2 separate regions of the Homo sapiens genome follow, and region 1 is linked to region 2. A link means that fine-mapping ties the variant in region 2 to the expression of a gene that starts in the linked region. Tissue or cell type: cerebellar hemisphere. Region 2 holds a variant in brackets; the other region holds the start of a gene. All regions are shown on one strand. Distances are from middle to middle.

Region 1 (15,891 bases), 29 kb before region 2:
GGAGGGAAGGGAAGGGAAGGGAAGGGGAGAGAAGGGGAGGGGATGGGAGGCATTCTATGTGCTAAGCCCTCCACTTTACAGAATCTAACCTTCCCAAGTACCTGGTAAATCAGGAATTATTATCCCTTATTTTCCCAATATGTGGAAATTGGGCTTAGCAATTTACCTTTTGCAATTTATGTGACCTTGCGATTTGCCTTTTGCAATTTATGTAACCTCTCTGTGCCTCAGTTTCCTCATCTGAAAAATAGGAGGGATAATAATAACATATTTTGGCTCATAGACTTGTCATGTGAGTGCCTTGTCTGAGACACGATGAACTCAGATTCAATTAAGTTATTATTATCACATTGCAAAAGGCAGCTTTGGGACTCAAGACCTGGTCTTTCTGATTGAAAGATTCTTTTTACCTTACCATGCACTTCTGCAAACAAACATTTAAAAGAGTCTACACTGTAATCAATGCCCAATATATAAATTAATTTCCATTTAGTTTCCTTCTCCCAAGTTGAGGCCTGAGCACAATTTTGATAAGCTACAGATTTATAAATTACTCAGAGCTGGATTTACTGGGGAAGGGTGGTGAAAATGTGGCACAGGGCAGAGGAGGAGAAGTAATTCCTATAAAGTAGTGTCAAAGCAATAAATGCAGATCGTGGGATTCATGGTGATGACAGCTCATCGGCTTCCATGAATATTTGATCAGGTTGGGTTGCAGGAGTGTGGCCTGGAATTTCCAGGCAGGCTGTGACTTGGGCTTATAAATAGTGAACATGCAGGAATGAAACGGACTCCCAAACCTGAGTATCCCTCCCACCAGAAATTTGTGCTGCGTCAACTGGGGGAAGGTGGTGGGTCAACTAGAGGGACCAAGGGGCGAGGAGGAAGAGGGGAGCTGCTAATCACCCACCATCACCCCACGCCTCTACCCTGCTCCCTCCAGTGCCCCCAAATGACCAGTGGTTCCCCTGGCACTGATCTGAGATGGCGCCATTAACAAGGGCCAGAAGCCATTTAGTCTGCGTTGGAATAGCTGGGATAGTGTGAGCCAATCTCCAAGCCCCAGGCTGTTTTCCAGCCCTCTCAGGAGCAGCTCAGGTTTCTGGCCCAGTGAATGGCGCAAGCTGGGGCCTCTCTAAGCAGATCCGGTTACGCTCCCGCACTGCCTGCCGAAGCCAGGGACACTCCGTTAGAGGAGATCAGACTCTGGCTTGTTGGTGACCCTGAAGTGAGGGCCTATCAGCCCTAACCATCTCCACTGCTGCATCCAGGCTTATGACTGTGACCTGAACCTTTGCTTAAGGGGGAGACCATGGACGCAGGAAAATTTGGTTTTCCAAATTTCCAAATCCTAGATCTGCCACTTTCTAGCTCAGGGACTTCAGCAATCCTTTAGCCTCTCTGAGTTTCAGTTTTCTCATCCTTAGTGTAGGGATAATATAAGTATCCAGCTTGTGCCTTTATCAGGAGATATAAGTGAGATGGGCCATGCAAAAATTATTTTGCTCAGTGCTTAGCTCATACTACGTGCTTCATAAATATTAGCTACTTTTATATTTTGTTATCATTGCTGCTGCTAAGAGTATGTTTCTAGGAAACAGAATTTTGTGCCACATTGGCCAAGGTAATCTTTTTTAGACTCAAATGGAAAAATGAGATCTTGTAGTGTCCAACTATTTCTTAGGGACAGACTGCAGCCCAGATAAGCAACTTCCTCCAGGTCACACAGTTAGCTGGGGGCAAAGCTGAGCCTGAAACCAGGCCATGTGAGCCACATTCTCCTCCTCCTCCTTGTTGTACACTATCCAGTGTACAAAATGTTTTCGCATTTATCTGTCTCCATCATGCCATGCCGCAGCAACACACATGCAGAACAAAGAGAACTGGGCCCGTGCAGCCTTGTCTGCCTCACTCACAGTGCATTCTGGGAAACTCCTCCAAGCCCTGGGAAGCCTTGTCAATTAGCATCCTTCTGGCAGGCTTTTTAACGTCCAAAGGAAATCAGCATAGTCAATCTCTTCAGGATTTTAGTTTGAACTTTAATTTCAGCCCCAAGCCTCAACAATATCTCTGTTCTTTGCTCCCTCCATTTCATTTTTTTTTTTTTAAGACAGGGTCTCAGTCTGTCTCCCAGGCTGGAGTGCAGGGGCGCAATCACAGCTCACTTCAGCCTCTGCCTTCTGGGCTCAAGTGATCCTCCCATCTCTGCTTCCCGAGTAGCAGGGACTACAGGTATGTGCCACAATGCTTGGCTAATTTTTGTATTTTTTGTGGAGACGGGGTTTCACCATGTTGCCCAGGCTGGTCTTGAACTCCTGAGCTCAAGTGATCCACTCGCCTTGGCTTCCCAAAGTGTTGGAATTACAGGCGTGAGCCACTGTGCCAGATCTTACTCCCTCCATTTCAAAGGAGAGCTGGAGAAATGAATCTATCCCTGGGTGTGTGTGTATCTGTGTCTGTGTCTGTGTGTGTATGTAAAAATTAAAGCAAATGCTCATGGCACAGGATGTTTCCCCTCCCAAGGAAGAGCAAAGGAAAACCTGGGCTGTAAAACTTGCGCTCTAGGCACCAACCTTGCTGCTACAATTTGGAAGTCACCTGTGTTGTTATGAATTTTAAAATAAACCTGAACTGAATTGTAATTCAGACAAAACAGTGTTTTGCCTAAAAACAAAACCCTAAAACTGTAAGCCACGAGACACACGGGGGGTCAGGGTCAGGATGCAGGAGACACAGACTTCAAACCCAGACAGACTTGATTTCAAGTCTCAGCTCTACCATGCACTGGCCATGAGGACTTGAAAATACCACTGAGCATCTCTGGGTCTCTGTCTTCTCATCTGTAAAATAGGGACAGTATCAACCACCTCATAGGCTCCTTGTCAGACATAAAATGAGAGGATGTATAGAAAGTACCTGATATAGGAAATGTGCAGTCAATAAGAGCTGTCATTAAGTGTGACTGTCACCATGGCATGACTTCCCCCAGTGACATTTCTGGCAGAATTCCTAGATGGTTCTGCTGTGGCGGGGAGGCCTGAGAAAGCACTGACCCCTTCTACCCATTTTTTCAAATGAGGAAACTGAGGTCCAGAGAGGTGATTTAGAAGGGAACTAGGAAAATTAAAAGCTGGAAACGTCATGGAAAGTCTGTTCTTGAGCTGTTTCAGGGCAGTCCTGCTGACTCAAGGGGCTAGGGAGGGACGGAGAGTGGAGTCAAATTTTTGAGACTTATTTACAAGACCAGGGCCCACAGCCTGGACCGCAGTGATGTCAGTGCCACAGCCAACTGCACCACCTGCTCCACCAGAGGATCGGGGGCAGAACCAGCCAGGGGGTGGTGGTCCCTTCTTCAAGGCTGTGGGTTGACTGGCTGGTCACCGCAAGGTGCCCTTAGGTCAGGTTTCTTGCATAAAATGGGGATAACGTCTCCCCCTCAGACTCATTGTAAAGACAAATGCTACATGGGATGAAAGGGTTGCTAACCTCATCTGTGTTCTGGGCTGGGCTGAGTGTTTCTCACACGGTCACTCATTTGGTTCCCCGGTCCCCCCCAGGAGGGAGGAACCTTCACTTCCCCTTATTGCACAGATATAGAAACTGAGGCTTGGAAGGTGTAACCCACTCAAGGTCACACAACTACTAAGTGGAAGGAAGAATGGGGTCTTGGCCTCTGCCTGTCAGGATGCAGATGTCTGTGATGCTGTTCTGGACATGCCCAGTGGGTCCTCCGTGAGTGGCCTCCACAACCAGCAGAGAGTCATAGAGCAAGGCAGGTAGAACAGCTAGCTCTGCTCCCCCGAGATGGAAAGGAAGGCCACCTCAAGGCAGCTTCTAGGACCTAGACTGTTTCAGTGACAGTAGATCATGCTCTCTAACACCTCTGCATGGGATGGGAGGGCTGGGGGAATGGAAGGGCAGGTTTCGTGCCTCCTGTGCTAGCTTGCTCCAGCTGCCACGACAAAATACCACAGTCTGGGATGCTTAAACCACAGACATCTATTGCCTCCTAGTTCCGGAGACTAGAAACCCAAGATCAAGATGTCAGCAGGGTTGGTTTCTCTTGAGGCCTCTCTCCTTGGTGTGCCGATGCCATCTTCATTCACTTGGTCTTCCCTCTGTGTGTGTCTGTGTCCTAATTTCCTCTTCTTGTAAGGACACCATTCATACCAGAGGAGGGCACACCCTAATGGCTCCATTTAACTTCTTACCCTCTTTCTTTCTGCCTGGGTGCCGTGGCTCGTGCCTGTAATCCCAGCACTTTGGGACACCAAGGTGGGTGGATTACTTGAGGCCAGGAGTTCAAGACAAGCCTGGCCAACATGGTGAAACCCCATTTCTACTAAAAATTACAAAAAAAAAAAAAAAATAGCTGGGTGTGGTGGTGCCCACCTGTAATCCCAGCTACTCAGGAGGCTGAGCATGAGAATCACTTGAACCTGGAAGGCAGAGGTTGCAGTGAGCTGAGATGGTGCCACTGCACTCCAGACTGAGTGACAGAGCGAGACTTTGTCTAAAAAAAAAAAAAATGCTCTCTGTAAATGTGGTCACATTTTGAGGTACTAGGGGTAGGACATCAACATATGAATTTGAGGCCAGGGGGACCCAGTTCAGCCATGACACCTCCCTTTACTGTGAGGGGTCAACGTGCCTTTCTGGGTCCACCCACTGTGGCCTATGGAATCTTTCACAGCCTCTCAGCAGCACAGTCCTCGGAGCCACAGCCTGGCCTCCTTGGGTCTCCGGCCAGAGAAGGCTCTGCTCAAGTGTCATCTCCTCAAAGAGGCCTTCACTGACCATCCTGTCTAAACAAGAGCTCCCCTCCCCTAGCCACACAAATTCTCTTCACAGCCTCTATCATCGCCTGGACTTGGGTGTGTTATTTGCTGGCTTACATATTATCCCTCTCCCTACTAAAATGTTAGCTCCCTGAAGACAGAAATTTTATTTTGTCCTAGCTGTACTCCCAGCATTGAAAAAGTCACCGGAGCCATGGGTTGGAGGGAAGGGGCGGGAAGCGGGGAGGGCTGAATAGGTGGATCACAGGGAATAGTGGCATCATGCATATCACGATGCCTTTGTGCAAAGCCATAGAATGTACAACACAAAAAGGGAACCGTAATGTAAACTAGAGGCTTTAGTTAATAAAAATGTATCAGTATTGGCTCATCAGTTGTAACAAATATAGCACACCCATGCAAGATGTTAATAACAGGTGGTAACGGGATTGGGGGGCTTTGGAAGTAGATGAGAACTCTGTATTTTCCACTCATTTTTCTATAAACCTCAAACTGCTAAAAAAAAAAATGAAGTCTACTAATTTCTTCTTTTTTTTTTTTTTGAGATGGAGTCTTGCTCTGTCACCCAGGCTGGAGTGCAGTGGCACAATCTCTGCTCACTGCAAGCTCCACCTCCCGGGTTCATGCCATTCTCCTGCCTCAGCCTCCCGAGTAGCTGGGACTACAGGCGCCCGCCATCATGCCCAGCTAATTTTTGTATTTTTAGTAGAGACAGGGTTTCACCGTGTTAGCCAGGATGGTCTCGATCTCCTGACCTGGTGATCCGCCCGCCTCAGCCTCCCAAAGTGCTGGGATTACAGGCGTGAGCCACCGTGCCCGGCCGAAGTCTACTAATTTCTTAAACAGCACGTAGTACATAGTAGGTACACAGTAAATATTTGCTGATGACTGAAGGATTCAAATCATCAGCCTCAATTTATGGAGGTTTATGCCATGCCCCACATGGTACTGCAAAAAACCCAAGTGAGGTACAAGGCATAGACCCTCCAAAGAGTGACAGAACTCACAGGAAAAAAACACAAGGTCAATGGCAATTAGGTCAATGATAATTAAAACACAAGGTCAGTGGTAAACACAATGTGAGTGGTGATTAATTCATTCTGAGGCTCCTGTAAATTGCCTGCAGGGAGGCTGTGCTACTGGCCACCTGCAGACAGTACCCCAGCCCCCACCTGAGGCTGTGGGAATGCCTTGTAGTCAACAAAGCGAGAGTGACCCCCAACCACTGAGGATTGCCTGGGTAGGGTATTCCATGGCGTGAGCCACATGACTTCTCAGAGGTCCCCAGCAGGCTGGAGCCCAGCTAGCCTTGGCAATTACCTGTCCATCACACACCATCCCATGGTTTTACTCTGTTCCCTGTGTCACTTCCCTAGTCTCTCACCAAGATGCCTGGGGTCACCTTCCAAATAAAAACCTTGCCCCAAATCATTGTCTCAGTGTCTGCTTCCTGAGGGACCTAAACTAAAACACTACCCACTGTAAAAGGCGGTACAGAGAAGGCTCTCCATAAGGGGTAATCACTGTTATCATGTTACTAATAGCAACAGTAATAACGAGCATCATAATGATGAAATAACTGAGACCCCAAGAGGGAGGGTCTCTTGCCCTAGTTCACTTCAGAAGGTAGATGGCATAGGGGTTTCTAATCTAGTCTGTCTGACTTCAACATCTGTGAGATCCCACACACCCACACACCTATGCACTCTGAGTTGAAATGCCTGCTGCAGATTCCCAGGGCTCCCAAGGAGCTGCTCTTGGGGGTTAGATGATAAGGATGGCTGGAGTAATCCCAGAGAGCTTCCTGGAGGAGTTGGCATGGAGTCTCAAGAGAAGAACACAGATTCTGGAGTCAGGCTCAGATTTGTGATTGGGTTCTATGTCCCTGAGCAAGTCACTTTAACTACTTGGAGCCTCAGTAATCCCATTGGAAATGGGAATAATGGGGCCCAGCTCACACAATTGTTATGAAGAGTAAATGTATTGGTGAAGAGAACAGGTTTTAGACTGAGAGAGCTCTGAGTTGGGATCCCGGTACTGTCACTGACAAGCTTAGAAAAGTCTTTTTTTTTTTTTTTTTTTTTTGAGATGGACTCTCACTCTCTCGCCCAGGCTGGAGCACAGCGGCACGATCTCGGCTCACTACAAGCTCTGCCTCCTGGGTTCACACCATTCTCCTGCCTCAGCCTCCCAAGAAGCTGGGACTACAGGCGCCCGCCACCACGCTGGGCTAATTTTTTGTATTTTTAGTAGAGACAAGGTTTCACCATGTTGACCAGGATGGTCTCAATCTCCTGACCTGGTGATCCGCCTGCCTCGGCCTCCCAAAGTGCTGGGATTACAGGCATTAGCCACCGCACCCCGCCTAGAAAATACTCTTAATCACTCTAAGCCAAAGTTCTTTCATTTGTAAAATGGAAATAATATTAGTTCCTACCAGTAGAATTATAGTGAGAATTAAATAAGATAGCACATGTAAATCCCTTAACATGGTGTATGAAATACAGTCAATGCTCACTAAATGTTTGGTACTTTTCATCAAGATGTTAGCGGCAATGGAGTAAATTGTACAAACTATTTTGGATATAATGTGGCACATCAAATTAAAACTGAACACACCTATGGCCCAGTGATTCCACTTTTAGGGGTTTATCCTATGGATATATCAAGATACATGTGTGAGAATGCTGACTGGAATACTGTTTGTAACAGCAAAACACTGGAAACAACTCAACTGCCTCAGTAGTGAGGGAACTGGTTACATCAATGGCAGCAATACCCACAAAGAAATGCCACGTAGTTGTCAAAGGAGAAATGCAGATTCATGAGTGGGATGTACAGAAAGATGTCCAAGGTATACTGATAAGTAAAAAGGCAAGTGATAAAAGAGGTGTATATATTAACCTGTCTCTTTAAAACTTTTTTTTTGAGACAAGCTCTCACTCTGTCACCCAGGCTGGAGTGCAGTAGCTCAGTCACAGTTCACTGCAACCTCCTCCTCCCAGGCTCAAGTCATCCTCCCAAGCAGCTGGGACTACAGGTGTCTACCACCACACTTTACTAGTTTTTTGTATTTTTAGTAGAGATAGGGTTTCACCATGTTGCTGAGGCGGGTCTCAAACTCCTGGGCTCAAAGAGATCCTGTAATCCCACAGTGCTGGGATTACAGGGGTGAGCCACTGAGCCTGGCCTTGTCTTTTTGTTGTCGTTGTTTGGTTTTGTTTTTTAAAGGCATACACATGTGCTTAGAAGTATTCTAAAAATATTCTCAAGGAAGTGTGAACCCAAAGTATCTGAGACAGTCTTAATCAGTTTAGAAAGTTTACTTTGCCAAGGTTAAGGACGCACCCATGACATAGCCTCAGGAGGTCCTGAGGCCAAAAATTGTTTGGCCCCAAGGTAGTTGAGATACAGCTTGCTTTTATATGTTTTAGGAAGACATGAAACATCAATCAATATGTGTAAGATGTACATTGGTTTGGTCCAGAAAGGTGGAGGGGGTGGTTTCCAGGTCATAGGTAGACAAGAGACAAATAGTCGCATTCTTTTGAGTCTTTAATCAGCCTTTCACTGAATACACAATTTACATGCGGTGGTGGGGGGCGGGGGCGTAGAAGAATAGTCACTTATGCCTTAGTCTGGCTCAGTGAATCAGCATTTTTACATAAACAATAGGGCAGAGGAAGCAATCGGATAGGCATTTGCTTCAGGTGAGCAGAGGGATGACTTTCTGTCCCACATCTGTGAAGATCAGCTGTTGGTTTACATTGCCAGGGTGAAATTCAACAGAACTAATTTAGGGTGAAGATCTTGAGGCCCACAAGGAATTTCCTTGTGGGAAAATTGTGAGGAAGGTAAGTAGCTTTTAAAAATCTTTGTAGCTATCTTCTTCAGGAAGGAAATGGGTGGTGGGTTTGCCCAACATGGTTTCCAGCTTGACTTTTCCCTTTGGCCTAGTGATTTTGGGGTCCCAAGATTTATTTCCCTTTCACAAAATGATTAACAGTGATTATTCTAGAGCAGTGGTTTTGCAGGGGCGATTTTTGCCTCCTACGGGACATTTGGCAATGTCTGGAGTCATTTTCTTGGTTGTCACGGGGCGGGGAGGGGGGTGCCACTGGCATTGAGTGGCTAGAGGCCAGGAATGCTTCTAAACATTCTACAGTGCACAGGTCAGCCCACGACAAAAAAAAGAAAAAAGTTTGGCCCAAGATGTCAATAGTGCTGAGGCTGAGGAATCGCTGAGAGGTTTAAGAGGTTGAGCGCTCTCAAATGTGGGGAAGAAGACTTATTTTTCATATAATGCTTCTCTGATGCTTGCATTACATTAATAGCAACAGCTACAAAATCTGCCCACTCTTAGCTATGAGCTAATGCGTGTAAGATGCCAGCATATAGTAGGTGCTCACAAGGTGTTCCTTTCTTGCTGCGCTCTGGCTTTCACATCTGCAGAAATGGGTGTGCCAACACCTGCTCTGGGGGTGGCTGCAAGGCTCATTTTAGGCTACAGTTCAGGCCCTGACCACCTGGCTCTGGGTGCAGCTGTTAAAAGCGTCACCAACCTGCCCGGGGGCAGCTTCCCATATCCCTTCCTCTGCCACTGGTTATTCTGCTGAAGTTCAAGGGCCCCCAGCTGCTTCTCAAAGCAGGAACACTTCTGCAAAACACATCCTGAATTTGAATAGCCATGTTGCTGTGTCTCTGACAGACAGGGCTGCCAGATAAAATTCAGGACATCCAGTTAAATGTCTCATGCAATATTTGGTATATACTTATACTAAAGAATTATTCATTATCTGGAATTCAAATTAAATTGAATCCATATGTATATAGCTGTTGTTGTTGCTGTTTTAATCTGGCAGCTCTACTGTCCAAGCAAGGTAGAGATGAACTGTGTGCTCTTTTCCAAGGAGCTAATCTCATCAGATAGAGATTTTGCTTTTGTTCCATCAAAAGTCTTGCTCACTTACCAAGGGAGCTTGGATCCTGCTGGGAGACTAAGATGGTCACTGCCTCTGACAATTTCGTAAAAATCTCAGGCTCCTGGGGCTTATTCAGGCAAGTTGGGAGGGACGTTTCTGAAACACGTTTGGCCCGGTCATTACGGAGGAGGAGGGATTGAGAGCAGAAAGCAGAAGCGAATGGAATTCAGGCCTCAGGATGCCTCCCCGGCATAGGCCCCATCAGAAGCCCTATTGTATGTTTGTAAGTTCAGAGGCTCCTTCTTAAAGAGGCGCTACACACTGTATGAGCCCCAGGGTCCACCAAGTCTGGGGTCTGGTCCTGGCTGAGAGGGCAGTGCACTGAAGCTGTTTATCCAGTACCTGCTACGTGCCCAGCCATGAGCACACTCCTGGGCCAGCATCCTGGGCTAGGGCTCACTGTGGGTATTCTACAAAGGGGGAAACCAAGGCTCGGAGTGGTGGAGTAACTCCCCCAATGCCACCCAGCTGGGAAGTGGCAGAAAAAAAAAAAAAAAGGATTTGAACCTGGGTTGAGTTTCCTCTTTGCTGGGAACAGCACCTCAGGGCCCTGGTTCCTTGGGGCCGGTTGAAAGGAGAGAGTTGCCTCCCTGAGGGTCTCTGCTGGGTGTAAGCACTGCAGGAAGGGGCTGTCTCCTTAGGGGAAGTTAGGGCCCTAGCCAGGGCCAGAGCAGGAGTAGGTTCTGGGAGGACAACTGAAAGTTTCAGAATTATGCTCAACATCTAAAAATATCAAGCACCGATTTCATGGCAGGCAAAGTTGCTAAGAGACTTCACAAGCATCATCTCATTTAACCTCCCGGCAACCTTGTGACAGTTTGATCATGTGCTGCGTTTTGCAGATGAGAGAACTGAGGCCCAAAGAAATGCTGCATGTACCCAAAAGCACCCGGTGGGTAAGGAGAACAAGGATTTGAAGCCAGGCCTTCTGAGAGAGGGGAGGCAGGAGAGAGGCAGCACTGGACTCCCACGCGGGGCAGTTCGGGGACTGTTGGATTAGTCTCCTGTTACTGCTGTAAAAGATTACTATAAGCTTAGTGGCTGAAAACAACACAAATTTATTACCTTCCAGTTCTGAAGGTCAGAAGTCCAAAATAGGTCTCACTGGGCTAAAACCAGTGTGTCAGCAGGATTGCATTCCTCCTGGAGGCTTTAGGGGAGAAGCCATAGCTTTGTTTTTCCCAGTTTCTAGAAGCCACCTATATACCCTGGTTCACGACCCTTCCCTCCACTCCAAAGCCAGCAGCATAACATCTTCCAGACTCTCTCTGACTCACTTTCGGCCTCCCGTCTCCATTTTTTAAGGACCCTAGCGATTACCCTGGGCTCAGCCAAATAATGCAGAATAATCTCTCCATCATGAGATCCTTGACTTCATATCTTAAAGTCTCTTTTGCTATGTAAGGCAACATAGTCACAGATTGTGTGGATTGGGACATGGATGGCTTTGGAGGGGCCATTGTTCTGGCTATCACAGTGCTGCCTTGGCCTTCGTTGGGCTTTGCCTCTGTTCTGGGAGTGAGGGGTGAAGTCATAGAGCTGGAGGAGGGGGTAGGAATGGGGCTGGGCTGGTGGTTGAAGAGCGGCAGTGAAACAATGATCCTTGATGTGGGACCACGGGCATGGGGGTCACAGGATGGCCTCCCTGAGACGTCTCCAGCCAAGAATCTGAGGAGAACACTCTGGGCACTGCCATATTCCAAGGGGCATGGAACCATGCCAGGGGCCACATGGCTGGGCTCAGCACCTCTCAGAACTGTCGCCCAGGTCTGCATCATTGGGTGGGACTAGGGAGGGACTCAGACAGAAGGACATGTGGAGTGGCCCAGCGGTTCACAGCCAGTTATGCTAGAATAGTATAACCCTTTCACCCAGAAGTTCTATTCCTATGAGTTTATCCTGCAAATAGATCTACCCCTGCATGAAGTGATATATGCAAACTTAATTACAAGATTATTTATAAATTAGAAATAACCTAACTGTCCATCAGTAGGGGACTATCCTGGTGGTACAATCATAGAGTGGAGTTCTACGTTGTCATCAAGAAGGCTCTTTACATATCACCATGAAAAAAATCTCAGAGAAAAATACGGATCAGGATACTATGTTGAGCATGCTACAATTAGTGCAAAACTGGACAAAAGGAAGAATGTATTATATATAAAATTTATATTTGCATAAAACATCACTGCAAGATGACGCATGAAACTGAAAGCATTGGCTGCCTTGAGGGAGGAGGAGGAGTGTGTGCCTGAGAGACAGGGTGGAAGGGAGGTTTGTCATGATTGACTCGTTTCACTTTTCAAATGTGGAACAATATGAGTATGTTCCCTACTAATAAATGAATGGTTAAAGTGTTTTAAAGAATCCTTTGAAATCATATGTTCAAAGAAATACTCAATTGTCTAAGTTGGAAGAAACTGTGAGCCAAGCTACCCCTGAGTGATGGTCTTGAGCATGAGTTCTGCCCGTGACCCTCTTTAAGAGCCAGGGAATTTTTCCTTTTTTTAATTTTTTTTATTTTTTTTGAGACATGGTCTTGCTCTGTTGCCCAATGGAGCAAGCTCTGTTGCAGTGGAGTGGTGCAATCACAGCTCACTGCATCCTTGACCTCCTGGGCTCAAGCCATCCTCCCACCTCAGCTTCCTGAGTAGTTGGGACCACAGGCACGGGGCACCACACCTGGCTAATTAAGGGCCAGGGAATCTTGTTGCCCAACATAGTCACTTCCCTCCCACCATTCCCCACTCCTACACCCAGGGCCAGACAGCTGAGCATGTGGCGGTGCCCCGGTTCACCTTGTTAGTATTCCTCCAGACTTTGGCACACAATGATCCATCTATCTGGGGTACCCTCCCACCTGCTTCTTGCACTGCTTTCAGCAATGGCCATGCTCTCCTTGTCTGCCTGAGCACGCAGCTGAATTGCATCTTCTAGGCTCCCTTGCAGTTAGGTGTGGTCAAAAGTTAGGGCTTTTAGGAGGTCACTGAGGTTAAATAAGGTCATAAGGGTGGGGCTTTAATGCAGTACAAGTTGTGGCTTTATAAGAAGAGGAAGATCTCCCTCTCCCTCTCCCTCTCCCCTTCTCCCTCCCCCTCCTCCTCCTCCTCCCCTTCCTCCTCCTCCTCCCCCTCTCCCCCTCTCCCCCTGTCCCCCTATCCCCCTGTCCCCCTGTCCCCCTGTCCCCCTGTCCCCCTGTCTCCCTGTCTCCCTCTCCCTCCCTCTCTCTCAGCATTATTTTTATTTTCATTACCATCATCATGTTTATTGGCTTAGTATATATTTTTTGGCCACCCAACATCCCTCCTGTTCCTTCCCTTTCCCCAGGAGAAGCTGATCCAGGTATCCATTCTCTCTTCCTCCATGCTGCCCTGGGCCCTGGGGAAGCTGATTTTTCCACCTTAGCTCAAGCAGTGCCTTCGGTTAGTCAAGGGTCCTTCCCACCCCTGCAGCAGTGATTGGGTCTGTCTCCTTGTTGCCTCTTCCTGGTTCCTCCTCATTCCCTGACTCTGCAGGTCGCAGAGTCTGGCAGTGCTCAGTCTCTGACCTCTTTGCTTCTGTAGCTGTATTCTCTCCCCAGGCCGTCACTGCCAGATCCTTCGATTTAAATCCCATCCTTATCAGAGGTTCTCAACTCTGGCTGTACGATGGAACCACTTGGTGAGCTTGTAAAATTCTCAGTGCCCCACTGCACCCCACCGGTTCTATCAGACTCTGAGGACTCAAGCATCCACAGTTTTGAAAGCTCCCCCGTGAATCCACAGAAGCCAGGCTTGGGAAGTGCCGCTGGAGGCAGGGGCAGAAGACCTGGAGGTCAGGAGGACCTCGGTTTGGGTAGCGGCAGTGGATGTGTGAGCAGCCGTGCTTTCTGGGTATGTTTGAAGGTAGGGTGAGCATGGTCTTCTAAAGAATCAGATGTCAGGTGTTAAAGCAACAGAGGAACCGAGGATAACACTAAGGTTTTGGCCTGAGGAACTGGACAGAGGACACCACAGGAAGAGCAGGCTTGGGGAGGGGTCAGAAATCAGATTGAGGTTCAGTTAATTTGGAGACGATTATGATGATGATTTGACATCCAAATGGAGACCCTAAGTTGGAAGCCGACATCAAAATATGGACATCAAGGGAGAGTCACGAGTCGAGAGTCAGAGATAAGGATTTGGGAGTCCTCGGCACACAGACCCACGCCTCTCAACCTCATCTGCACATAGACTCTCCTGTGTCTTTTAAAAATCCTGATTCCCAGGCCCTATCCCTGACTGATGACATCAGAACCTCTGTGGGTGGGCCCCGGGCATCTGTATTTTCTAAAAGCTCTCCAGGTGATTCCACTGCGCAGCCAAGATTAAACACCTCTGTTTTAAAGCCTAAATGAGATTGGGACATTTCTCCATTCAAAATCCTCCATGGGCCTCCTATCTAAGTCGAAGTAGAGGCCGGGTGTGGTGGTTCACACCTGTAATCCCAGCACTTTGGGGGGCCAAGACGGACAGGTCACCTGAGGTCAGGAGTTTGAGACCAGCCTGGCCAACATGGTGAAACCCTGTCTCTACTAAAAATACAAAAATTAGCCGGGCAGGTAGCAGGCACCTGTAATCCCAGCTACTCAGGATGCTGAGGCACGAGAATCACTTGAACCTGGGAGGTGGAGGTTGCAGTGAGCTGAGACGGTGCTACTGCACTCCAGCCGGGGCGACAAGAGCAAAACTCCGTCTCAAAAAACAAAACAACTACAATAAACAAAGTAGAAGCCAGAATCCTCACCACAGACCTCAAGGGCCATAGCTCCTGCCCCCACTTACTCCCTGACCCGGCCTCAAGGGCCATAGCTCCTGCCCCCACTTACCTCCCTGACCCCTCTCCTACAGTATCCCCCTCCCTCATTCTGCTTTAGTCATCTGGCTTCCTTGTTGTTTGTGAAACATACCAAGCATACTTCTGCCTCAGGGCCTTTGCACTGCTGTTGCCACTGCCTGGAATGCCCTTCCCCTCGATGCCCTCATGACTGACTCCCTCACCTCCCTCGGTCTCTGCTTAGACCACTCTAGTTAACATGGCTACTTCCCCAACGTGCACTCGCCTTCTCCCTTCCCTGCTGTATTTTTCTCCCTAGCACTGATCACATCTAACAGTATTGCATATTTTACTCATTTGTTTTTTGTCTGTATCCTCCTGCTAGTTCTAATATGTCAATTTTTAGAACTTTCTTCTATTTTGTTCATAGCTATGCTGCCTATAGCAGGTACTTAATAAATATTTGTTGAAAGGAGAAATATGTTAACCCAGTCCTTGCCAATAAGAACCACAAGGGCTGACTTAGGAATGGGCACGAGACCCAATTTAGGCAACGGAGATGCAAGGGAGGCTGACTGGAGACTTCTAGGAAAGCCTGGAAGAGACGGTGTGTAGATGTGTAGCTGCAATGCCACAACCACTGCTGCCTTGTGGGGTGAGGGATTCGGGTCGGGGTCAGTGCTGGCGGCACCCCAGCAGGGTGGAACTGAAGGAGAGGGGACACCAGACTCGGCCAGTCCCCAGCTTACCACTTCTTTGTTGTTTATGCCAATCAGAGACTTTTTGCTTTTGTTTCTGTTTGTTTTCATTTTTAAGATTGTCTGGGAGGTGGTTGTAGCATTTTTTTTTTTTGAGACAGAGTCTTGCTCTGTCACCAAGATGGAGTGCAGTGGCGCAATCTCGGCTCACTGAACCTCCGCCTCCTGGGTTCAAGTGATTCTCCTGCCTCAGCCTCCCAAGTAGCTGGGACTACAGGCGCATGCAGCTAATGTGTGTGTGTGTGTGTTTGTGTTTTGTAGTTTTAGTAGAGACGGAATTTCACCAGGTTGGCCAGGATGGTCTCGATCTCTTGACCTCGTGATCCGCCCACCTCGGCCTCCCAAAGTGCTGGGATTACAGGCGTGAGCCAGCATGCCCGGCCAGTCATAGCCCTTTTAAACAAATTAAAACTCTCCAAGTATGACCTGACTTTTTCTCCGGACACAAAAAGGATTCCTTTCTGAGGGCAGCACTCCCTTTAGGGCTGCAGCTCTGGAAGCCAAAGCATCAAGGAGTGAGTCCCAGTTTTGCCATCAACTTGCAAGTCTGCTTCCCAA
Region 2 (11,972 bases):
GGCAACAGTCCCAGCCCTGTTACCTATGGTGTGTGATGCTAGACAAATCATTTACCTTCTCTTTGACTCAGTTTCCTTATCTGAAAACAAGAAGGATTATAATGGCTTCTTTCTATAAACTTGTGAGCATTAAAAGAGAGAAGATACTAGAAGGTGCCCAGTAATAGTAGGTGCTATGATGATGATGATGATGATGATTATTATTATTATTATTATTATTATTATTTGAGACAGAGTCTCTCTCTCTTGCCCAGGCTAGAGTGCAGTGGCGCCATCTCGGCTCACTGCAAGCTCCGCCTCCCGGGTTCACACTATTCTCCTGCCTCAGCCTCCCAAGTAGCTGGGACTACAGGCGCCCGCCACCACACCTGGCTGATTTTTTGTATTTTTAGTAGAGACAAGGTTTCACCGTGTTAGCCAGGATGGTCTCGATCTCCTGCCTGCCTTGGCTTCCCAAAGTGCTAGGATTACAGGTGTGAGCCACCACGCCTGGCCCGTAGGTGCTATTATTAATTGCAAACATAGTAAATTTTCTTTGTCCCTGTGGACACACTCTTTGGTGCCACAGCCTGCTGTACTAGGGTATTTCTCCATGGAAATGTGGACCACCTAGATGCCAGCCTCACTTTGGCCCCACAATGTCCTCTGAAGGCTCTACCCGCAACCCCTTCCTAGTCCAAGCCTCCCCCAGCTGGGCCTAGCATGGCGAAACCCAGAATTCCTGGCTGAGCCCAGAATCCTCCTGTTATCTGAAATCCGCCCGCAGAGAAGCCCCTCCCAGCCAGGCTGCTCACACCTCTCTCCAAGATGCCTGGCACACGCATGCACCAGCACACACAGCCTCCTGTGCACATGCACACGCATGCAGGCAAACCCCACCCCCTCACAGGCACACTCCTCTTTATAGACACAAATTAATATGTTCAACAATTATATTCATACCCTTGAATTTAGACCTCATACTTCCACTCATATGCACCATACTCTCCTTCATTGAGCACATGGATACAGGATTATCCATAAATGCAAGTGTCACAGCCACGCACTCACGCATGCCCACGCACATGTGCTCGTGTGCGTGTGTGCACACATACACACACACACCTGCACATGATTCTGATGTGGGACAGAAGTTGACTTTCCTTGGGAAGGACTGGTAGCCCAGACTGTGCAGTCAGGAGGGCAGGAGGAAGTTAGCCAATGGGCAGTGGGCTGGGTAGCGGAGGATACCCTGGCGGGAACTGAAAGGTACTTCCGTGGTGGACAGAGGTGGTTCTGTTTCTTAGTTACTCTGAGAGTACCTTTTGCTGAGTGCTCCCTCCTGGCCAGCCCTGTGCTCAGGGGCTTTAGTCAAAAGACCTTCTTGGGGAGGACTTCCCCAGCATCCCAACACGAGCTTGCAAACCCCCCACGTTACCCACACAGAATCACATGAATGTCCCCTCGCCCTCAGCTTGCCTTTCCCTCCCAGCACTTATCAGCCCTAAAACACCGATGCTGTTACCTTAAAAAGGTTGTTTCCATTGTTCATTCCTTCCCTCTAGAATATACTGCTTCCTAAAAGCAGGGCTTTTTTTTTTCTCTGATATGTTCCCTGCTTAATTTCCAATACTACAATGCCTGGTTCATAGCAGGCAATCAAGAAACAAGTGGTTTTAGGAATATCTTGTTTCATACTCTGTACAGCACCCTGAGGTAGGTGCAGTTCAGAGCCTAGTCTTACAGAGAGCAGAGGCTCAGAGAGGGTAAATGACATACCCACAGGCACACAGCTCCCAAGTCACCACCAGGTTCTGACGCAGGCAGGTTAGCTCCAGAACCTGGGCTATCAGGGCCATGGTCTACCTCACCAGCGTATGAGAACAGGGAAGTTCACTACCCTTATCTGGACTCGGTTGCTCATCGGCAAAATTCAGTTCGACGCTATATTCTTTCATGTTTCATCCAGCCGGGGGATGGTGTGATTTCACGCTTCACGGGAGTAAAGGACTTGATGCTTGCCAAAGCATTTCCAAATAGCTTACCTCATTTCATTCCTACAACCCAGGCTTTCCCAAAGGTTCCTTTTGGCAAGGAGCCTTCCTGAGCCTCAGGAAGGTGAATACCTGGCCTGAGGTCCCATCCTCGGGAGGGGTGGGGCCACCCTTGAGCAACTGAGTGTCCCCAGGGCCCTGGGTTGCCAGAATGGCATAGACTTCTTCCAGCCCCCTCTGTCCAGGGACAAGTTTGGTTTGCTTCCCCAGAGAATTATCAATGCTTGCTACCTTCTCTTCTCTCTCCTGTCTTTCATTCAACTTATTAATAATATCAATGAGTATCAATATCAATGAATATCAATATCACCTACTAGATGCCAGGCACATCACTGGCCACTAGGGCTGCAGCTCATCTCTGTCTCCATAAGCTTGCATTCCAGGGGAGGTGCAAACACAGCCTGATGTGGTGAGTGGGCTGATGGCAGAAGTTCGGGAAACATTAGGGGTGCATGGGTATGGCCCCCAAGGGTCCAGGAAGGCTTCTTTCCCCAAGGAGGAGGTGATGCCTGAACTGAGACTAGCAGATTTGTAGGAATAAATTAAGCGACAGTTGGGGAGGGTGTCCCTGGCCGAGGCCCAGAGGTCAGCAAGCCAGGCCATCGGGAAAACTCACCCCACCCACCTATCCACTCTGGGACTCAACCCTGCACAGTCAGTGCCTCTGGAAGCCACCGACTGTTGTCGGAAGGGAGCTCCTTCCAGTACCATCGAAGGGCTGGCTGCTGCTGGAGCTTCTCTGGGCCCTTCCAGCTTCCCTGCTGCCTGGCCTACCTCCTCCATCTCCAGGGAAGCAGGATTCATTCTAGGCCTGATTTATTAGCCTCATCCTGGAGTCATCCCAGATGCTGTCGCTGGTCTCATTTACTGACCTGCCTGAGGGTGGAGGAAGGAAATTCATTAGGCCTGCAGAGCCCATGGCCAGGCCCATCTGTCTGGGCATCTGCCTCCCCTCCCCTCCCCTCCCCTCTGTTCTGCTCTCTTCTTCCTTTCTCTCCCCTCCCCTCTTATTCTCCCCCCGCCCCACAAAGGAAGGAAGCTCTGTGCCTGAGTCTTCGCTCGGGATTACCAAGGCAGTGACACTACAGAGCCAGGTCCCCAGGGGAGGATCCTGACCAAGGAGGAAGGGAGGCACAGAGGTCTGGAGAAACTCCTGTGCAGCCTCCAGCACTGCACCCTGAGGCTCCCCCAGCCTCCTGCCAGATCCAGGAAACACACATTCTCCATCTGGGGATTTGGAAAGCTCTCTCCCGGGTACAGCAGACCTGCCTGTTTTTATGCAAAAGGTGTCTTCCTGGGCAAGTTGTAAGAAAATAAGATCTCCTGAAATAGATTGCTACCTTTAAAACAGAAGGCAAGAGGCAGCCTCGGAGGCATTTTCATTCCCGACACAGGGCCAGCAAGGCGATGTGAGGGAACAGAGGGCTCAATGCTTTTTATTTTCATATGTTTTAAGGATATAAAAATATATATAAACTTATAATTAGCATATCTAACCCTTGATCACACAAGATAAAATTGCTTTGAATAAAGCTAAAATAGGTACTTACGTTTCTAGAAGCAGATCAATTTAAAGAAAAGCGTAAGGAGAGTTGCAGAAGAGAGTTACAGAGGAGAGTTACAGAAGATACACAGTGGTTGACAAAGACACTAGAGTTTAGGACACATTACTCTGAAAGAGTAGGTCAGCGAACGCATTGCCAAGGTTAAACTTCTTGTGAGATGAAGCAAACCTTGATTTCAGCAGCGCATCTCACGGAGGGAAGCTGCAACCCCGGGTACCTTGCCAAGCCGGCACCTGCTCCCCTCAGCCTGCAGAACAGAAGCCATCCAAAACAGATCGCATGTGTGCAGTGACCCCGGAGGTTTAA[A/G]CAAACATGGCCTCAGGCCTCAGTAAATGTTTAGCCTTAGTGACTGGCTGGCAGGGGGGTGAGGCCTGAGGCCCTCTGTCCCTGACAGCTGGCACTGTGGGGGCAGGCTGGGGCGGTGAGGGTGGGGAGTGAGGGCCTGGGTCAAGCTCCTCGCCCTGTGCTCATCTTTTCTGACCTAAGGAGAGGCTGACATTCTTGGAGGCTGAAAGAACACATGGAGAGCAGTGTTTTTCCAGCTTCTGTGTTGGTAAGAGCCTGGAGTCTCTCTCTCTGTCTCTCTCTCTCTCTCTCTCTCTCTCTCTATCACACACACACACACACACACACACACACACACACAGAGCAATCACTGCACCCAGCCACCTCTATATACATGTACACAAAGCCACACAGTTTACACAGTCACAGGTATTTAAGTACACACTATTCACACACAAATACATATATAGACACACATGTACAGTCCGTCCAAAATATATGTACATAAAAGCACACTATTACACCTTCATATGTGCACACACACACACACCCAGACTCACTTCATACACACATAGATACAACAGCCACAGCTCCCCATCACCTACACACACACACACACACCTGGACACCCAGCTCTAATATAATCAGATAGAGATATGCATGCAGACAAATTTGCCTGTATAGTCAAACACATAGGCAAATAGAGAACGAGACACCACATGAACAAAGGCAAACCTACACACAAAGACACAGAGCACACTTACGCATATATCTATAGACCCACCATGGCACATATGGGTAAGTGCACACAGGCAAACTCACACACACGAGCATGCACAGGCAGAGAACACAAATGTACACTCCCAGGTGTCATAAAGAACAGCCCAGCTTCGGCTTGGGAACGTCACATCAGACAATAGGAACGGCTGCACCGCGCGTTTCCTCGGCTGCCAGCTTCCCAGCCACAGAGGATGCCTCACCTGCTATGTCAGCTCCCCTCTGCCCCACCTCACAAGAAGCTCAGAAGCTGAGGAGTCACAGAGAGACCTCCCTACTGTGTCAGAGGTAGGTAGGCACGACCAAGATCACATCCAGGCCGTTCCCACCCACCAACTCTTTGTCATGAGGTTTGTATCAGATGCCCTGTCTGCTGCTACAGCACAGAGCCAGCTGGCCTACAAAGACCATTCGGTGTAGTGAAGTCAAGCAGACCTGAGGTCAGGTGCCGCCTCTGCCCTCCACAGCTGTGGACCGTGAGCAAGTCACTTCACCTCTCCGAGTCTCAGTATCCTCACCTGTAAAGTGGGTGTAATAATAACACCTAGCTCAAAGAAGAGTGTGAAGGTTAAATTAGTCCTGCATGTGCTGACCACTTAGCACAGCTCCCGTCGTGCCGGAAGCACCCTATAAACCAGGCATTTGTGAGAAACACGGCACTATGGACATTTTGAGCTGGATAATTTTTCGTTGTGGGAAATTAGCAGCTTCCCTGGCCATTACCTGCTAGATGTCATTAGCACCCCCTTCCGAGTTGTGACAATCAAAAGTGTCTCCAGACATTGCCAAGTGTCCCCTGGGGAGGGGGGCGTGGCACAAGAGCTGCCCCGCTGAGGGTCACTGCTATGCATGTTGACTTTTATTATTGCTGTTGGCATCATCATTGCTAATACACTGGCTATGAGATGCTCAGAACAAAAAGGGAACCGGAAGCTGGAATGAGGATAAGCTCTGGGTGGCTCCCGTAGTCATTTCCTGCCTCTTTCCTCCTCCCTCCCGCTTTCGCCACCTTTGCTGCTGAAGCCACCTTGCAGGGCCAGGCCTGGCCTTGTGAGCAGCTGGAGGGAAGAGAGTTGAGGCACCCGCGCACGTTACTGTGGGAATGGAACTGAAATGGCTTCCCATGGGTGGGTAGTCTGGCCAGGCGCAATTCTGCACCTGGAAACTGGGCCTCCTGGGAAGTTAGGATGGACCCCACTTCTGGGCAATCTTGGGTGGGGCTGCGGGGGAAGGGGGCTGGGGAAATCAGGAGCAAAGAAAGCTCAGGACAGCAAAAGGGCAGAATACGTGACATGTTGAAATAACCTAGCCTCATCTATTAAAATACAAAATGCATGTATCTTTTGACAAAGGGATCCCTTACGTGGGAATCTGTCCTATAGAACAACAATCATTTATACGATTTGTAAGTACAAGGTGTTACTGCAGTACTGTTCATAGTGGCAAAAATCTAAAAGCCACCTTTGCTTGTCTGTCAGCTGGGGAATAATTGAATAAATTGTGGGTCACCCACACAACAGAATATTTTGCACCTGTTAAAAAAAGTTTTCTACATATGCAGTTATCTGGATTAATGTCCAGCACATAATTGTTAAATGAGAAAAACAAGATACAGAATACTGTAGGATCCCACTTTTTTGGTAAAAATCAACTAAGAAGCCCTATTTTTTGTATGTGTCTGAATATGAGGACAACTAATATTAGTTGCTGGAAAGAAAGGTAGAATGAGATGAATATGGAGAGATTACTTTTCATATATGTGTGTGTATAAATGCATAGACCTATGTGATTATCATATGTTTTATGCATTGTTATGAGTGCAAGCTACTTCACTAATTTCTGCAGAGGAATTTAATAAGGAGTTGTTATTTTTTTTTCTTTGAAAGAGAGTCTTGCTGTCACCCAGGCTAGAGTGCAGTGGTGCAATCTAGGCTCACTGCAACCTCCGCCTCCCGGGTTCAAGAGATTCTCATGCCTCAGCCTCCTGAGTAGCTGGGATTACAGGCACACACCACCACATCCGGCTTATTTTCTGTATTTTTCATAGAGACAGAGTTTCACCATATTGGCCAGGCTGGTCTCGAACTCCTGATCTCAGGTGATCCACCAGCCTCAGCCTCCCAAAGTGCTAGGATCACAGGTGTGAGCAACCGCGCCTGGCCAAGGACTGTTTTTAAATGAAAAGGAAAGAACTCATTCCTGAACCCATCTCTCACAGCGAGGTTTTAAAGCATGGTGTGGACTCCTTCACTCGTAAATAGGTTCAGCAATTCTATCTTGAGAATCTGCTATGTGGTGGGCACAGCTCTGAGCACAGTTAACCCAACAGGTGAAAAGATGCATCCCTACCCCAAAGCACTCACCTTCTGGTGGAAACACAGAGAACAGAGGAACACATCCATGTATAAGGCATTGGGAGGTCATGTTTACAAGAAAAACAGAGCAGGGTGAGGTACAGCCAGGAGTGGTGGCCTGTCTTCTGGACAGGGTGGTCAGAGAAGATCTTGGGCACAGACCTGAACAGACTGAGGGATGGAGGAGCCTGGGGAAGGAAAATCCAGGGAAGGGTGACCCTCCAGAGGGCCTCTGAGGGTGAATGTGCAGAGGCAGAACGTGCCTGAAACGCTGAGCAACCAGGAGGTCCGTGCAGGAGCTTGTGTTATTTTGGTGCAGGAGCTGGTGTTATTTCGGTGCAGGAGCTGGTGTTATTTCAGCATAGGAAGGACTTTGAATGTCATTCTAGGGGATTTGTCTTAGAAAAACAGGTTTCATCATTCCTGGACTTGTTCAAGACTGCGGTCAGCCCAGGCTATATCCTGGAGGGTCTGAGCAGAGGTTCAGCAGAGGTCCTGGTGGGCTCCAGGCAGGAACTGAAGGTGCTGAGCAAGACCTTGGTCATTCGTGCGAATGAAAGCCACAGTGGGGTACCCCAGAGGTTTGAGCAAACATGGTTTAAACCTCTGCAGAAATTAACGAAGTCACGTACACTCATAACAATGCATAAAACATATGATAATTACATAGACTTATGCACTTATCCACACACATATATGAAAAGTAATCTTTCCGTATTCGTCTCATTCCACCTTTCTTCCCAGTTGGATGTGGTAGAACAGACACTGCTGGTGGGAGAATCCTTGTGGAGCGAGCCCTTTGGCAACAGTTGGTGATTCCTAGTCAAGCTGAACATGCGCACACACTGGGATCTACCACTGCACTCCTAGGTGTGTCCCCTCCAGGAACTGTAGCATTCCAGTGCCAGGAGACCCACACAGCCTGCGCACAGCAAGATCATTCAAGATAGCAAAACCAGGAACAGCCCAAATGTCTACAGAGAGTAGAATGTGTGAGAAAACTGGGCTACCTTCCTCCGGGGCAGTACGATGCAAGCAGTGGCAATGAATAAGTGGCTGCTGCAGGCACGGGCTTGGGTGAATCCCAGATCCTCACGTGAATATAGGAAGCAAGTCACAGAGCACAGAGAGTATGATTCCATTTGCACAAAGTCCAAAACCAGACAAAATAGCTAGACTTTGTTTAGAAATCCATAAATAGGTCATAAAAGTATACAGAGAAACAAGGGAGTAATTGACACAAAATTTTTTAAAAAGTGTTGTAGACTGTAATTTTTTAAGTGAAAATGGTTGATATTTCATTGTATGACTCATTTAAACAGAAGCCAAAATGGATGAATGTCTTTTACTTTGTCGTTGTTAAGTAGGTGATGAAGGTGAAATTGTCAGTGGATGACATTAATCCTTCTCTCTCCACCGTTTTCCATAGGATTGTAGGTTTAAAGCAAAAGAGTGTTCCGTGGGATTTTCCATGGGATTGTAAGTTTAAAGCAAGAAAGTCAATACTGATGATGCCTTGAAATAAGTTATACAATTATACCCATTTCAGAGATGAGCAGAATGGGGCTCAAAGAGGTGACAGCACTTACTCAAGGTTACCCGGGATTCAGATCCACATTGGTAGGACTCCAAAGCCAGAAAGAACTTGACATATTTGAGGAACTGAAAAGAGGGCAGGGGTGGCGGGAGCACAGTGTGTGAGGGATAGCAGAAGGATTTGTAGGTCATGGAGGGAAGCTTGCAACGTTATTAATGGTGCCCTAGGGAGTCACCAAAGGGTTTTTAAGCAGAGGAGAGACAGGGCCAGATCTGCATTGTATAAAAACTTCTCTAGCTGCTGTGTCACAAAGATACTGGAAAGGGGCAAGGTGAAGGAGGAGACCAGCAGAGCAGCCACGGCCGGGACAGTGCAGAGGAGGGAAGATGACACAGCTGTGAGACATTTTGGGGTGAGTCACAGAATTTGGCAATGGACTGAATTTGAGACTTGAGGTAAAAGAAGAGGTCAAGAATGACGCCAGATTTTTGACTTCAACAGCTGAGTAGAAAGAGGCGACATTTGAAATAACTGAAGGAACGGCAGTCTGTGGGGACACAGGCCTGGGTGCTCAGAGTGGCACACTTTAATGCAAATGGCCTTCTGCTTTCTGCTCCAGTCCCCGCACTTAAGGAAGGAACAGCCACTGAGCTGTATGAACAGCCACCCCTGCCCTCCAACAGAGGCCCTGTTCTTGACATGCTCGTGCACCTCACTTTTCTCCTGGGGTGAGTTCTTTCCTCTGCTCTTCTGCTGACTGACACCTAGTCGGCCAGTCCAGGCCTGTCTGAAGCCTTGGGTGAGACCCCTGGTGCATCTCATGTTGTTGATTCCTCTGGCCTTTTGCTAAGTCCTCTACTCCTCTGCCTTTTATAAGGTCGAAGGGAACTCTAAAAAATCTATACTGGCCCATCAGCTGCAAAAATTAACTGTTTGGATCTCTTAGAATTTGGGTGGTACATGAAGAGCAATAGAAAACACTCCCCTTTCCTGGAGCATTACCTGAATTATTTAATAAGTTGCTTTCACTGGAGTCAATATAGTACCTAAGTCAAAGGCCTTTGAAGTCAGACAGGTGTGAGTTGGAATCCAGCCTCTGCAACATCAATAGCTGTGCGATCCTGGGCAAGGGACTTAGAGTGAGTAACACAGGGTCTGGCAGATAGGAGGACCTCAATCAACAGAAGGTGGTAGTGATCTGGGAAAATTGTAAAAGAAGAGACTTTTGGCTGGAAGAGCCAAGATCTTGCCGCCATTATATAGGTGGAGGAACGGAGGCCTGGAAACATTACAGGGTTTGCTCAAGGACCCACATTAGAGGTGGAACTCTACCAGGAGTTAACGCCACAAATGACTCCCAGCCCTGTTCTCTCTCCAGACCCCCTGGGGAAAAGCCGCAGACATGAGTGAAGGCAGCAGGACCTGTGTGACGTGGGTTTTCAGTTGATTGCAAGGTTGCTGGGGAGCAGAGGGACCCACTGCAGTCCCACAGGCTGGATGGTTTTGTTTTATTACACAGGGTAAAATCTGAACTAGCTGCTACTATTTACATATCAGGAGGTTTCCTGAAAAAATCAAAATTTCTGAATTTTTTTGAAAAATCAGAAAACATGGCCACCCAGCCCTGTATTCCTACAGGGTGGCAGTAGTGGGAGCTGACCTGCTGCTGTGCCCTTGTGGATCTGTGCTCTCCAGTTTGCCACAGTCCCTATCCCTCTCTATTGTCTCCTGGACACTATAGCCTGGTGTCACCTGCAGCTGGCTATCATGCTTGAGCTATTGTGTTTTGAATATGTGGTCCACTTTCCTCATTTGTGTGACCTGCTCTGTCCACAAAGACATGCACTTGCGATTCTGGCCTTAGAGTGTCTCCTTAAAAAAATGTTTTAGAACATAAAGATATATACATTCTCCAATCCATTGCTGCCCTATTAGCTATTGTTGTGGAACCCTGAGTCATTTCTCTCAAAATTCTCCTGGCAAATATGTTCCCTCTGAAATCTTCCTCCCCACATCCATTTGGAAATAGAAACTCCTGCCCACGGCTGTAGTGGTCCCTTTCTCTGCATCCTCCACTATTCCTCTTCTTTTGGATCTTGCCAAGGGTTATGGTCTGCAGTTTTCCATGCCTTTTCCTTTCCCCACCCTACCCCCCTCGCCTGCTCGCAGGGCCACTCCTTCTCTCCACATCGTGGAAACCTGGCCCTATGCTCTGCCTCGCTGCAGCTCTGCATGGCTGGCCCTCCTTTCTGCATCCGGTGGGCAAGAGGAACCAAAAACAGACATTTACAGGGAGCGGGGGATGGGGACAGGTCAGGTTTCTTGAGTTTCTTGGAGCAGGAATGTCAGTCACCAACCCTGTACCCTTACGATTCGCTCTGGACAGTGGCATACTAAATCTGTACTTGCCTCCCTTTCACTTTCAGAGATGAATAAACAAGCATGTCCTGCCTAAGATGTTTGGGGCCTCTCCTCTTTGACTTTCTATTCTACTGCCTCTGTTTAGACCTGTGCCAACTTGCAAACTTGCCATGGCCTCCCATCCAGCCTCCCTGCTTCCAACTCGCCCTCTCCTGTCCCTCTTCCACCCTGCCTCAAGCTTGATCAGGTCTCCCATCTGCGTGAATCCCATCAAGAGCTCCCTATTACCTTCAGAGGGAAGCCCAGGCCCTTGGCCAACCAGGCAGGGCTCACCTAACTTCCCAGCCTCATTGCTCATTTCTCCCCACCAGCACTGGCACTCAGTCTCGAAAGCCAGGAAGCTCTCACCCGGTTTTTCTCCTTGCCCTCATTTTTTTTCTCTATCAGAAAAACTTCTCTCATCAGGATGGAGTTGGGGAGGGGGCTACTCCCACTGATCCTTCAGGAATCAGTTTAAACACCACCTCCTCCCCACCCTTTGTCTGACTGCTTGTCTCCACCAAAGCGTTTAGATTGTTTTGTTTCTCCTCTGCTCACACCTCTGCTGTGGCCTGCCTGGTTGCACAGTTTACAGATCTGTCTCCCCCAGACTCTGAGGCCTCAGGCAGAGACCCTCTGGCTCATCTCTGTGTCCTCAGAACATGGCCCAGGATCTGGCATGACGACAGCCTAATACAAGCTTGAGGAATTGAGTGATGCAGTACTGAATTTCAGCAAAGACATAGAGAGGTTGTTCATAAAAGGCTGTCCTTGGGTTTTTTGAAATATGTTTCCTGCTTCATAGAAGCAAGGACCATTCTTCAAGAAGATGACCATGGGCCTCTCTCCACCCTTGTCAACCACAAGGCCCTTTCTATTCCTTTCACAGGAATAGGTCCTTCTGTCACGGGGCACAGGACCCTTGACCGCAAAATGACGTGAGTTACCACTGACTATTTTCTGGGTCTTGATCTTGTGACTCCAAATGGATGGTAAGCTCCTTAAGGGAAAGTCTATGATA

What was found.
Region 1: it holds the start of LINC01484, and the variant in region 2 is fine-mapped to the expression of LINC01484 in cerebellar hemisphere (GTEx, PIP 0.94).

The regions. Positions count from the first base shown.
Region 1 is chr5:173,738,782-173,754,672 of GRCh38, reverse strand. It overlaps LINC01484 (long intergenic non-protein coding RNA 1484), which reads left to right and starts at 8,464. Exons shown (of 3, transcript NR_108027.1): 1 at 8,464-8,653. RefSeq lists enhancers at 10,342-10,511, 10,642-10,691.
Region 2 is chr5:173,711,817-173,723,788 of GRCh38, reverse strand. It overlaps LINC01484 (long intergenic non-protein coding RNA 1484), which reads left to right. Exons shown (of 3, transcript NR_108027.1): 2 at 11,841-11,943. LOC107984118 (a long non-coding RNA gene) reads left to right here and starts at 8,826. Exons shown (of 2, transcript XR_007059059.1): 1 at 8,826-8,963. RefSeq lists enhancers at 2,203-2,703, 2,704-3,204. The variant A/G (reference allele first, on the strand shown) is at 3,905.